Linked DNA regions of Homo sapiens. The protein of the gene in region 1 interacts with the protein of each later gene in a biochemical or structural test. Each region holds a gene or a part of one and is shown in the gene's direction. Other genes may lie near its edges.

Region 1 (3,946 bases):
ATTTAGGTTTCGCTTTAAAGATAATATAGATCTTTGCCAAAGTCAGTAAACAAAGATGAACAATCCTTGTGTCAGGCCTCTGAGCCCAAGCCAAGCCATCGCATCCCCTGTGACTTGTACGTATACGCCCAGATGGCCTGAAGTAACTGAAGAATCACAAAAGAAGTGAAAAGGCCCTGCCCCACCTTAACTGATGACATTCCACCATCGTGATTTGTTCCTGCCCAACCTTAACTAAGTGATTAACCCTGTGAATTTCCTTCTCCTGGCTCAGAAGCTCCCCCACTGAGCACCTTGTGACCCCCCACCCCTGCCCACCAGAGAACAACCCCCTTTGACTGTAATTTTCCATTACCTTCCCAAATCCTATAAAACGGCCCCACCCCTATCTCCCTTCGCTGACTGTCTTTTTGGACTCAGCCCGCCTGCACCCAGGTGAAATAAACAGCCATGTTGCTCACACAAATCCTGTTTGGTGGTCTCTTCACACGGACGCGCATGAAACCTTGGTCGTGGGCCCTCGTGGTAGAGCCCATGTCCCCCAAGATTTCTTTGGCTGTGTTACCTTAGATTTGAACAAGCACTGTACCTAAGGCGGGCGCCTTCCTCCTCCCGCTTTCAGGAATGCCCTGCTCTGCCATTCTTTTGCTTTCTCACTTCTCTAATACACTTGCTTTCACTTTAGTCCGTGGACTCGCCCCGAATTCTTTCCTACGCGACATCCAAGAAGCCTCTCGCTGGGTCTGAGTGGAGACCTCTTTCTGGTAATAAACGGACTAGGGAGATTCGACTTTGAAGGTGAAAACAAAAACCACCATCCAGTTTATAAGAAGGCGCTCGAGGCCGGGAACGGTGGCTCAGGCCTGTAATCCCAGCACTTTGGGAGGCTGAGGTGGTGGGGCGGGGGGAGGGAATCACCTGAGGTCACGAGTTCGAGACCAGCCTGACCAATATGGTGAAAACCCGTCTCTACTAAAAATATAAACATTAGCCGGGCGTGGTGGCGCACGACTGTAATCCCAACTACTCGGGAGGCTGAGGCAGGAGAATCGCTTGAATCCGGGAGGCAGAGGTTGCAGTAGGCCAAGATCGTGCCACTTCACTCCAGCCTGGGCGAACAAGTTAAACTCTCCATCTCAAAAAAAAAAAAAAAAAAAGGGCGGCACTGGAAACAGCTGGGAGTGACAGGGCCAGGGATGAGGGATCGCAAGCTGCTGGTGAGAAAGGAGCTCAGAGGCTGCCTGGCCTACGGGCCAGGAGACCTCAGCGCAAAAAGCGCAGGACTCGTTCCCCTGCTCTACAGCTGAGTGCCCAGGACGGATCTCACTGGCTGAAAAAAACAGAAGAGAAGGCACCCAATGCAAAATCAAATGTCAGCGAACGAGGGGTCCTTTAACAGGCGGCCCACACGGCCCCTCCTGGCGCCGAGACCCAGCCCCTCCGGGCCACCCCGGCCAGGTACGACCAGCAGGGTCACCTGCGCGCGTCCCCCGAGACGGGGCCTCCTGATGTGAAGCGACCCCAGTGGCACCTCACACGATTCCCGAGGGTTGCGGGCGGCCTCTCCTCAGCCCTGCAGCTCCCACACGCGGACACCGCGGGCCTCGGCCATGTCCACTGACCGACCTTCCTCGCCGGAACTCCTCGCGCATCGCCGGCCCCTCAGCGGCGACTAGCGCGCGAACATCCTGGAAGACGCGTTGCCGGCCCCACGTGAGCCGACGCCCCAAAGCGCGGCTGCTGGCGCCGGCTACGAGATCAAGGTCGGCGCGTGCGCGCTTGCGCGAGACCGGCATTCTCAGCCCCGCGCCGGTTTCCAGGGAGCTGGGCGCATGCGCCGCGTAAGGGGCCCGGCCGGCGGAAGGAGGTGCTACTGCCGGAAGCGCCGGCGCGCTTGCGCAGTAGCTGAACGCGGGCGTTTCTTTCCTCCCTTTTTTTCGAATTGGTTTTGGGGGTAGATTCGAGTTACAAAATGGCCGCCCGGAGCGTGTTCGGCGCGGTTCCCCCAGCTGTCTCTGGCTGAACCGGCGCTCTCGCCTCCCTGCCGAACACAGCGTGAGGAGCCCCCCCAGGGATATGGTGTTTGAGTCTCTGGGCTTGCCGAGCACTAAGTCCTCTGAGTTCCGCAGCGCAGCACCGGAAGCGGCCGAGCGCGCTCAGCCCGGCGACCCCTGCGGGCTCCAGACCCCTGCGCCGCTGCGCCCCGGGTTTCGCCGCAACCAAGACCCAGCGAGTGCAGCGGCGGCCGCCGAGGAGGTGAGGAGCGGCGGCGGGCGCGGGAGGAGAAGAGGCTGAGGGCGGGAGCCTGGTGCTGAGAGCCCAGGGCCGGGAGGGCGGGAGCGGGCTCGGGCCTGGGAGGGGAGTGCGAGTGCAGGGCTGGGGACTGGACCCTGGGGAGGGAGGTGCGGGTTCAGCGCCGGGGGACGGGCCCCTGGGGAGGGGTGCGGGGCCGGGGGACCAGACCCTGGGGAGGGGCTTAAGGGGCTGGAGGACGGGACCCTGGGAAGTGGGGTACAGGGCTAGAGGTCGGGACTCTAGGGAGGGAGCCTGGGTCGGGCGCACGGGCCGGGCGGGGCGCGCGGTGGGGGAGCGACGGGTGGAGGGTGGGGTGGGATGACAGCGGCGACGCAGCCCCGGCTGTTTTTGAAGCGGGGCCCGGGCCCCACCGGGCTGCGGCGTCCGACTCGAGTGAGACTCTCCCCTGCGGCCCCGCCGGAGGTAGGGGGCTGGCAGGGCTGTCCTGGCGTGGTCTTCTCCGTTTCCTTCCTAGCGATTCCTCTCGAGCTTCCTCTCCCCCTGGCCGCCCCTCGTCTCTCTTCTCTTGGGCGCATTACCTCTCTGGCCTGTCTTACTGCGTTCCCGGGTTATTCATCACCCATTTGCTCGGTTCCATTAAGAACCAGCTTGGAGATTAGGTATTTCTGTCTCCTTACTTGGCCCCCTTGTTGTTTTCCTCCAACAAGGCACTTCACTATTAAGTGTAGCCAAATCTGTGTTTTCGTTTTAAGGTGATGTTGACAAGTTGAGCTTTCCAAGGGCAGAGCTACACCAGATGCCAGAGACCACATAACTATATCAGGCACAAATAATGTTTTTTTCCAGTTTACCTAGACTTTCAGTCTCCCACCACGTTGCTTCATACCTAGAAATCATGTCTAATTTGGTTTTTTACCCACAAACGCAAACGTTTTTTAAATTCCCTTTTATTGATTGTTTGATTGAGACTGGGTCTTGCTTTGTCACCAGGCCTCAGTGTAGTGGTAGCTCACTGTGTAGCCTGAAGCTCCTGGGCTCAAGTGATTCTCCTGCCTCAGCTTTCCAAGTAGCTGGGACCACAGGCGTGCGCCACTACGCTCGGCTAATTTTTTATTTCTATTCATCTAATCTATGTCCATCTTTATTTTCGTAGAGACCAAGTTGGTTTCCAACTCCTGGCTTCAAGAGATCCTTCCGCCTCCCTTAAGTTCTTCATAACAGTAGCTAGACATAAGACTCCAGGTGCCAGGCCTTGTTCTGAATATTTTACAGAGGGTTTTTTCTCCCCCCCACTTCTAGCATAAAAGTAAAATGTATTGTCTGAAGTGTCATGCTTTGAAATAAAATAGGGATTTGGTAAAATATTTGTAAAAATCTGGTTTGTAATCCAAGTTATTCTTCTTCCATGCTACAACTTTTACGTTTTGGAGGGAAAATGATAGTTTATAGCCTTTGCTTCTAATAAAACTTGTTTCTTTAATAATTTATTAAGCCCTTCCTCTGCTCCAGGCACTGTTCTAAGCCAGTCTTTGTTTATCTTAACTTTCTTAATACTTCCTGTTCCACAGATGAAGAAACTGAGGCACAAAAATTAAATATAACTTGCCCAAGTTCTCACAGCTAGAAAATGGCAAAACTGGGATGCCAGCATCTTTTAGTATTTTTTGAAATACTTTATGCTCACTGGGGA
Region 2 (3,600 bases), on another chromosome or scaffold:
CGAGAAGGAGCAGTTCCGAATTTACAGGTGATGGTAGCAGGCCAACTCCTCTAAAATGGAGTCCAGAAATAATGAAGGCAATGAGGGAAGGGGCCCAAGTCCAGGCTTTCTGAATTTTGGTGCTCCTTTCTGTTTTCTAGGTATTGTTGCAGAGTTGTGGGGGTACTGGGGTAGGCTCCTGGGCTTGGGGGCAGGATCCAGGGTCAGGATCCAGGCAGTATAAAAGGCCTTCATCTGCTTCTCAGGGTGGACATCTCAGACACGCTCATGTATGTCTATGAGATGTTGGGGGCCGAGCTGCTCAGCAACCTCTATGACAAGCTGGGTCGTTTGCTCACCAGCTCAGAGGAGCCCTACTCCTGGCAGGTACCTCCCAAGCCTGATTCCCTCAGCCTTCCCAGACCTGTCACACCCTCCTCCTCATCCAAGCCAGTGGCACCCTCTTTCCCCAGCACACAGAGGCCCTCCTCTACGGCTTCCAATCCATCGCAGAGACCATTGACGTCAACTATTCTGATGTGGTGCCTGGGCTCATTGGCCTCATCCCACGGATCAGCATCAGCAACGTGCAGCTGGCAGACACTGTCATGTTCACCATTGGTGAGACCTGGCACACACCCATGACCATATTCCCAGAGCCACAGCACCCAACCCTGGCCACAGCCAGCATGCTGGATCCTATCCAGAATGGGAGAGCCACATGCCTACACACAATCAGTGTTGTAACAAACTGACTGTCCTGGCAGGTCTAGGGGGTCCATCTGATGGCACACTGAGCTGCAATTCAGTGAGGCTAGTTTACCGTCAGTGAAACAGCAGTACTGGGCCTCTGTTGAGTAACCCCTTCCTGCTTCTCAGCTGTAAGGCTCATGTTTGAGCATGCACATGCATATGTCCTCTGAATGGGGCAGTACTCTGTGCTGGGGCTGCAACTTGACCCTGCCAGGAACTCTGCTTGCCTCAGAGACATGGTACAAAGCCAGCCTGGCCTGCCTCAAAGATCCTCCTGTCTCCCTCCTTCCTCCAGGAGCTCTGTCTGAATGGCTGGCTGACCACCCCGTCATGATCAACAGTGTTCTGCCCTTGGTACTGCATGCCCTAGGCAATCCTGAGCTGTCTGTCTCTTCTGTGTCCACCCTCAAGAAGATCTGCCGAGAGTGCAAGTATGACCTGCCTCCCTATGCTGCCAACATTGTGGCTGTGTCCCAGGTATGCAGGGGCCCTGGATGGTGCTGGGCCTCAGAGCACACTCTGCACTGTGCTGATACTACATTCCTTCTTTCTCCCCTCAGGATGTGCTGATGAAACAGATCCACAAGGTGCGGCTCAAAAGTTTCTAGGGGTCTCCTTGGAGGTCTTGTGGGAATCACTTATCCCTGAAATCCTGTTTTTTGGCCTTCCCCTTCCTCTTATCCCTTATTCTCTGTTTTTCTTCTCCCAAGAGGCTCATTTTCCTTCCTACCCCACAACTAGATGTGGCCAGGACTGACCATCCATGTTCTGCCCCACAGACAAGCCAGTGCATGTGGCTGATGCAGGCGCTGGGCTTCCTGCTGTCAGCTCTTCAAGTGGAGGAGATCCTTAAGAACCTGCACTCGCTTATCTCACCCTATATCCAGCAACTGGAGAAGCTGGCAGAGGAGATAGTGAGTGAGCTCTGGGGGCCAGGGAGCGGTACTGAGATGCTGTGGCTGATGAGGGGTGAGGTTGGAGCTGGCCCTCAGAGCTGAGGCTCAGTGATCTGGGGACCAAACTGGGGCTGGGAGATCTGGAGCTTGGTTTGCTTCTCCCTGCAGCCCAATCCCTCCAACAAGCTGGCCATTGTTCACATCTTGGGGCTTCTCTCCAACCTCTTCACCACACTGGACATCAGTCATCATGAGGATGATCATGAAGGCCCTGAGCTTCGGAAGCTGCCAGTGCCACAGGGACCCAACCCCGTGGGTGACATTTGCCCACGGCAAAGACATTTGTCTTTGCCATCCCCCCAACCCCCACCTGTGGGAATGTCATTGTCACTCTTCAATTCTGTGGGTAATGTTGTCATTGTTCTCCCTGCCCCGTGGGCGTGATATATTTGGTCCTCTGACTCCATGAATGACCTATAATTGCCTCACTCTGTAGGCAGCAATGTCATTATCTCACTCAGCTCTGTGTGTGATGTTGTCCTTGTCCCCAGCCCAATTAGGGTGATGTCATTGAGATTCCTCAGCCCCATGAGGGACATTGACGTTATATCCTTCAACCCTTAAGTGATTTTATGGGCCCCTGTTCAACCCCTAGCTCTGTAGGGCCTTCTACTTCAACATTTACTGTCCCCTGTGGGCACTAAGGATGCTCATTACCTCCTCCGCATGTAATAGTTCTGGCCTTCAAGTTGCTCCCAGTGTAGAGGAAATTCAGGTTGCTCAAATTGTCACAAAGCAGTGTGATAAGTCCTGTGGTAAGCTTGGGCATAGGTTTTGGGGTGACCACTTACAAGCTGCTTGATCTGGGGCAAGCCTCAGCTTCCCATTAAAAACTATGAACATTGAAATGTCTGGCTTACTCAATTCATAGAACTGTGCTGGATAGTAGATGTGGTCTTAAGTGAAGGTAGTTTGCATATTGTAAAGTTCTTTACAAATATAAGGGACTGCTTTAGTCGTTGTTCCCAGAACTCCCTCCCAGATTTCTCCAGGAGAAAAGGAAGCCATAGGCATCCTGGCCTCTCTGCTTAACTCCCCAACCCAGTTTCAGTTAGCCTCTTGGCTTTAGACCACCCCTGGGCCACTGTCATCCCACAGAGCTGCTTCTTTACATGGTAGTCATCATCCTGCCTTTCCTCACCTCCCAGGACCTCAGTCTGCTCTCTGCTCCTCCATAAGCTGGGAGAGCAGCTTAAGCCTGCATCTGTGCATTCCTTGGGGCTCCCTACCTCAAGCCTATTTGGAGGAGATAGCATCTCCACTTCTTCAGAGGCTAGCCCATAGCCTTGGTTTTACAGAGCAGAGATAGGGAGAGATTTTTTTTTAAGTTTACAAAGTTTTTGTAACCTTATGAAGCACTTGTGATATCTCTGCTTTGCAGTTTGAGGCTTCCTTTGAGATGATCCCTAGAATTCAGGAAATACTCCTTTTTCATTCATGAGAGAGTTCAGCAAACCACTTCTTCCCCCAGGGGTCCCATGCCCTGGGTCCTCAATGTGTGTTCTGGGGTAATAGGTCTGAACTGCTCCCCTCCTCCCTGCCACCAAGTCCTCCTCAAGTGGGTCACAGTGATGGATAGCAGAAGCGCCTCACTTCTTCCTGTGCCTTCAGGTGGTGGTGGTGCTGCAGCAGGTCTTCCAGCTTATCCAGAAGGTGCTGAGCAAATGGTTGAATGATGCCCAGGTTGTGGAGGTGAGCCCTGACCCTTGCCCTCCGCTCCCATAGTGACTGCTCAGAGGTGTAGCAGGGTAAGATGTTACTGCCACACTTCAGCTTACAATGGTTTGGAGAAAACAAGGGAGGTGAATCCTGCCCCATAGAGATAAGGAATCTTTTGGGAAGACATTTAGAACTCCCCAATATCATGAGAAGTGCTTAACGTAAGGACTCTAATATTAGGGTCGAGTGACAG

Evidence for each region.
Region 2: the proteins of NUP50 (region 1) and IPO13 form a complex in vitro, tested with the Homo sapiens proteins (one study listed by BioGRID).

What each region holds. Positions count from the first base shown.
Region 1 is NC_000022.11:45,162,041-45,165,986, forward strand, and holds the start of NUP50 (nuclear pore complex protein Nup50), read left to right. Parts: upstream 1-1,884; 5' UTR 1,885-2,256; intron 2,257-2,630; exon of another isoform or gene 2,631-2,915; intron 2,916-3,824; exon of another isoform or gene 3,825-3,946. UniProt on the Homo sapiens protein: Component of the nuclear pore complex that has a direct role in nuclear protein import. Actively displaces NLSs from importin-alpha, and facilitates disassembly of the importin-alpha:beta-cargo complex and importin recycling.
Region 2 is NC_000001.11:43,956,950-43,960,549, forward strand, and holds part of IPO13 (importin-13), read left to right. Parts: coding exon 1-27; intron 28-245; coding exon 246-366; intron 367-452; coding exon 453-600; intron 601-1,027; coding exon 1,028-1,209; intron 1,210-1,292; coding exon 1,293-1,319; intron 1,320-1,511; coding exon 1,512-1,646; intron 1,647-1,796; coding exon 1,797-1,940; intron 1,941-3,299; coding exon 3,300-3,380; intron 3,381-3,600. UniProt on the Homo sapiens protein: Functions in nuclear protein import as nuclear transport receptor. Serves as receptor for nuclear localization signals (NLS) in cargo substrates.